2 separate regions of the Homo sapiens genome follow, and region 1 is linked to region 2. Evidence: fine-mapped expression QTL. Tissue or cell type: whole blood. Region 2 holds a variant in brackets; the other region holds the start of a gene. All regions are shown on one strand. Distances are between the middles of the regions.

The links. PIP is the estimated chance that this variant, and not a neighbour inherited with it, causes the effect.
Region 1: HOOK1 starts here. The variant in region 2 is fine-mapped to the expression of HOOK1 in whole blood (TOPMed, PIP above 0.99).

What each region holds. Positions count from the first base shown.
Region 1 is chr1:59,813,334-59,816,187 of GRCh38, forward strand. HOOK1 (hook microtubule tethering protein 1) reads left to right here and starts at 1,616. Exons shown (of 22, transcript NM_015888.6): 1 at 1,616-1,847. The coding sequence starts at 1,785. It overlaps LOC105378758 (a long non-coding RNA gene), which reads right to left and starts at 1,533. Exons shown (of 5, transcript XR_947426.3): 1 at 1,429-1,533. RefSeq lists a silencer at 1,084-1,683 and an enhancer at 1,920-2,483.
Region 2 is chr1:59,777,286-59,780,198 of GRCh38, forward strand. The region is part of intron 4 of LOC105378758 (a long non-coding RNA gene); the gene reads right to left. All of the region lies in intron 2 of LOC101926944 (a long non-coding RNA gene), which reads left to right. Among named protein-coding and RNA genes, the nearest start is that of HOOK1, 36 kb to the right of the region's middle. The variant G/A (reference allele first, on the strand shown) is at 1,076.

The DNA.
Region 1 (2,854 bases), 36 kb after region 2:
TTGTAGTTTTAATTAAATCACATTACCAATGTACCTAGTTCCAGCATATAAAGTGACTCCAGAGGCGTTAAGAAAGTTCTGGAATAATGTTAAGGGAGTCAATAGCAAACGTACATACTGTATTTTTAGAATGAGACTGATTTACACTTGGGGGCTTTTAATTGCAGTCGTCCATCAGTTTTAAATTTTCAGTGTCTAAATATAAAAACGCAGCAATATAAAAAAAAGCCAGCTGTTTTCTTACTCAGAGCATGAATTGATGAGTTTATGAATGAGTGAAGTGACAGCAAGACTAAGAATAGTCTAGCCCTTTTCAATCACCTAAGCCATCTATCAATACCTTGGAGAGCTTCCAATTTCAGGTCACCTCCCCCGACCCCCCTCCACCCCACAACATTCTCGGAAAAAGCAAATTTTCAACTGACAAAGGAAAATGGATACATTAATATCTTCCATGTTTTTCAAAACATTTCGTTTATTTTGCTACTTGAAAACGGTCTTCCCTTTTGCCCCATGTAAAATAAAATTGCTCATGATCTATGGTCCCGTGAGAGCTTATTTAAGGAGCACTGACGGATTCTATTTTCCTTATTAATGTGGCATATTTGCCACGTGTGCAAATGAAAACATCCCTTTCCAATGAGTGCCTAGGAGGAAATCAGCTCTTCCTTCCTCGAAGAGTTTTAATTCATGGGTATGATCTATTTCTTTCTTTCTTTATTTTGTTTTATATATTTTTTAGAGACAGAGTCTCGGTTTTTTGTCCAGGCTGGGGTGCAGTGGCATGATCTCGGCTCACTGCAACCTGTGCCTCCCGGGTTCAAGCGATTCTTCTGCCTCAGCCTCCTGAGTAGCTGGGATTACAGTCATGTGCCACCACCCCCGGCTAATCTTTGTATTTTTAGTAGAGAATGGGTTTCGCCATCTTGGCCTGGCGGGTCTCGAACTCCTGACCTCAGGTGATCCACCCGCCTCAGCCTCCCAAAGTGCTAGGATTACAGGCGTGAGCCACCTCGCCCAGCCGGTAGGATCTATTTCTGAAGACAATGTGGAAGCAGAGTGTGGGCCCTCCACAGGTGTAGCGAGGCGGCGTGCTACCGCGAAGAAGGAGGGAAGACGCCTGAGCCCAGCCGGTGCCCTGCTGCCCCTCTGCCTCTTCGGCCACTGGGGCTGAGCTTCAGCCTTACCAATCCCCGCCGCGCACGCGCGCTCGCTTCCCGCGCGCAACCTCCCACCCCCGCCCTCACTGCACCTGCCAGGTCATAAACCTCTTCCCACCCACTCTCACTCTCTACCCAAGGCTCAGGCTTGTCTCACGTTGATTGGCCAGAGCCCACGAGGGCACGTCCAATCAGCAATCCCCCCTGCGCAACCTATCCCGGTTCTTCCCGCCCCCGCCCCGCCCCGCCCGCCCCCCCGGGTACCTACCGTCTCTGTGACTGGTGCGCGGCCAGGTCACTCAGGGCGGCGGGGCGAGGTGTGCGGGAGTGGGCAGGACGGGTGGGAGGAGGGGAGGGGTGGGAGAAGGCGGGGCTCAGGTGCCTGGCAGCGCGGCCGGGGCCCAGGAAGGGGAGGGGGCGAACGCTGGAGCGAGGCGGGGGCGGGTGAGGAGGGGGTGACGCCGGACGCGTCGACAGCGCGAGGGTTCGCGCGTGAGCTGCGCGGGTCGGGCCTGGTACCGAGCTTTCCTGGGGGCTAGCAGGTCGTGGACGCCGGCTCCTGGAGGAGAGCCGGTAGGAGGGAGTGTGAAGGTGTCCGCGGCGTCGTCGACGGCGGCGCCGGCCATGGAGGAGACGCAGCCGCCGCCGCAGCCTAAGCTGCCCCTGTGCGACAGCCTCATGATCTGGGTGAGTGCGAGGAGGCGAGAGGGCGAGGGGGCCAGGGGGCCGAGGCGAGGAGCCTGGGGCGCCCGGTTCTCCCAGGTGAGCTGGGGCTACCTGCACAGGGTCCCGGCGCACCCTGCCCTTCTCACCTCGTGCCCTTGACCGAGAGAATGCCACCTGCGGGTCGACGGGCAGGTGTGTGGGCGCGGGTTGGTGTCCGGGGGTGGGGGTAAAGGAAGCTCTGGGAGCGTAACAGTGGAGGCTCTGGTCTCAACCAGAGGATTCGACCTGCCTGGTGCCCTAACAGCTGGGATATGAACCAAGCACCCATCCTCTTTTCTCCCCGCTGCCCCATTTTCTCCCCCTGAACAGCGCCCGAGCCCTCCACTTTCTGGATCGCCGACTCTCTTGCCTTGGTCCGCTTGGGCGTGAAGACCCTTTCCGAAACCTAACCCTGCATCCTCAAACTACCTTGCTCTACCTGGACACAGGTGGCCAGGAGGTGGCTGGCTGTTTTAGTTCCCGGACCAATGCTCCTTCAGGACTCTAGAACATCCGATTTTGTAGAAGCCGCTTCAAAGAGATGTTTGTATTTCCCGTATGGAGAAAAAGATGTGTTGGGAGTCGGGGGTCGTTTTCCCTTTTTCTCGCTGGCCCTCTCCTCCTCTAAATGGACAGCATTTTCTTTAAAGAAAATGAGTTGACATTTTTCTTTAGGATTTATCTGTGTTTAGGATTTTTGTTAATTTGTGTTGGGTCTGGACAGGCATATCTGTCCCCAGATTGTTCAATATTCCAGTCAGCAAAATGACATCCCACCTCTTAGAGTTACTTAGATATCAGTGCTGGCATTCAGGTGTGGTTCTTAACCCATATTGAGTAAAGATGGTGTTTGATGAGCCACAAGGTGCTGTTGATGATGCTCATCCCAAACCAGTTGTTTAGTTGCGTCTAGGGGAGTGTGTGCAGATGGAATGTAAACAGACGGGATCAGGAGGCTGTAATCGGTTGAGATTCCCTAGTGATCTAAT
Region 2 (2,913 bases):
CGTTTCTATCTATGGTAGCACTGAAAAATCTTTTCCCCTGAGTTTAAGTCAGGCTGGAAGACAGGGAATTCCATCGTGCCTTTTGTTTCTGTCAGAGTCAAAGCAGGAAATAGCTGCCAGCTGAGTATTCATAACAGGGATTTAAAAACTGGGAATTAATTACACAGAAGTGGAGGAACTGAGAGCCAAGCATGGGGTAGTGAGGCAACCCAGAGAATCATAACTGAAGGGAACCACTAAGACCCTAGGCCAGAGGGACAGAGGAAGAGGCAGTGTTACGGGCCCCTGGGCGAAGCTGGCATCCTGGCAGGACTGTTCTGGAGATGGCGCTGCTGGGGAGTTGCTGCCCAAGACAGAGAGGGAGGGGAGAAACATTCCAACTTCTCCCCTCTTCCCTCCCTCTAGTGTTCCACCAGTGCCTCCCACTGGCCAAATATGCAGAATTCAAGGGTCAGTCCCCTGAAATACAGAGCAGAGCAGGAGAAAGTGAAGAACCAATTTGAAGGCAATATGCCCAGGAGAGACCAATTGCCCTTGTTTGTCAACCTTCACCACTGCTCCAAACACAAAGCCCTCATACACACTTCCATAACAGTATCACTCCTGGCTTACATGCCCCACAGTTTTTCCTTATCCTTCTGCCATCCTTGTGCCAACCCACCAGCTATGCCTTACAGAGCCTCCATTCCACTGTAAACAAACTACTCTATGTCCTGCCTCTTCTTCAAATATTCTCTCTGACTTGAATTCAATCCTGATTCACACTTAGCAAAAAGCCCTGAATCATTTATTCACTCATTCAACAATGACATATTAAATGGAAATTATACCCGTAATAACTAACCTTGCATTGTTGTATGTGTTTTATATATATTAAGCCCTCCAATTCTCGCAACCACCTTATGCCCCTTCTATAGATGAGGAAACTGAGACAAGAAGTCCTTAAGAAACTTGCCACTCCCATAGTTCATAAATAGCAGGGCCAGAAATCAAACATGCATCCAGCCTCGAGAAACCACAGTTTTACCCACCATACATCACTGTTCCAAAAATGAATATACAGTAGTGAGCAACA[G/A]ATAAAGTTTAGTAGAAGAAGACATTTTTAAATTTTCATTTTGTAATAATTTTAGTTTTACAGAAGACTTGCAAACAATAGAGAGTTCCATATACCCTTCACATTGCTTCCCCTAATGTTAACAACTCACACAACCATACAGTATTTATCAATACTAAGAAACTTTCATTGGTACGATGCTACTAACTAAATTACAAACTCTAACCAAATTTCGCCAATTTTTTGATTAATGTTTTCCTTTTCCAGGATCCAATCCAGGGCACCATGTTTCATTGAATCATCATATCTCTTTAGTTTCTCAGACTTTCTTTGTTTTTTGTGACCTTGACACCTTTGTAAATTATTGATTAGGGCCAGGCCTGGTGGCTTACGCCTGTAATATCAGCACTTTGGGAGGCTGAGGTGGGTGGATCACCTGAGGTCAGGAGTTTGAGACCAGCCTGGCCAACATGTTGAAACCCTGTCTCTACTAAAAATACAAAAATTAGCTGGGCATGGTGGCGGGCACCTGTAATCCCAGCTACTAGGGAGGCTGAGGAGGAGAATTACTTGAACCCAGGAGGCGGAGGTTGCAGTGAGCCGAGATCACACCATTGCACTCCAGCCTGGGTGACAAGAGCGAAATACCATCTAAAAAAAAAAAAAAAAAGGATTGGTTAGGCATTTTGGAGAAAGTCCCCGCATTTGGGTTTGTCTGATGTGTTCATATAAGTAGACTAGAGTTCTGAATATTTTGGACAAATGACATATTGGCAAAGTGCCCTTCTCACCACATCACATCAAGGATACAAGCTATAAACATGAGCTATCATTGATGATGTTAACCTTATTAATTTAGTTAAGGTGATACATGGCAGATTTCTCTGCTGTTAAGTTTCTATTTTTCCCTTTTCATATTCTGTTAGTTAGAAGTGAGTACTAAATCCAGCCCTCACAAGGGAAGCAGAGTTAAGCTCTACATCGTGGAGGAGGCAGCAACTACGTTTATCATTTGGAATTTGGCAGGAAATATTTATCCTTTCTCCTCCATTTATTTATTTATTCAATCATTTATCACTCAGTAAACATTCATGAATATTCATTTTATTTTTTAGGTTATATTCCAATACTGTCATTTATTTTGTTTCCCTAACTGGGGCAACAAGTTAGAGCTCCCACTGCCTAGCTTTGGCCAATGGGAGCTTTTTCAGGTTGACTACTGTGCCCTTTTCACATGTCCCCATTTTGTTGAGCCCTTCCTTGCATTCTGTCACTACAAAATGCTCCAGGCTTATCTTGGATTTTCCCACCCCTGCCCTAGAATCAGTGATTTCTCCAAAGAACACTGGTTCCTTTTATTGGAGAATGGTATCAGAAACCAAGATCTGGGTGCCGGAAGTGCTTCTAGTTTCTCTCAGTGGAAAAAGATAGAAAATACATGTATGTATATATACTAACCCATGTATATATACATAAAAAGACTTTGAATAAATGAAAGCACAAATGGGTTGTTATAAATGCTATGAAGGAAAATACCAGATTCTTTATAAAAGGGTTATAGATATGATTTAATACAAATGGGGTTAGGTAGAAGTCAAGATGGTCTTCTCTGCAGTTAAATACTTAAGGTGAAATCTATTGAATGACTAGGAATTAGCCAAGTGAAAGGGCAGAGAGACAGCAGTACAGGTAGAAAAACCATCATTTAAAAGAACACTAAATAGCAGGTGCTCAAAATGTTTGAAGAGTTGGATGAAGTCCATCGTGGTGAGAGTGGAATGATCCAGGGGATACGTGACCACAAGGGGGCCAAGGCTGGATCACATAAGACCTTGAAGGCCATGATAAGGAGTTCAGAT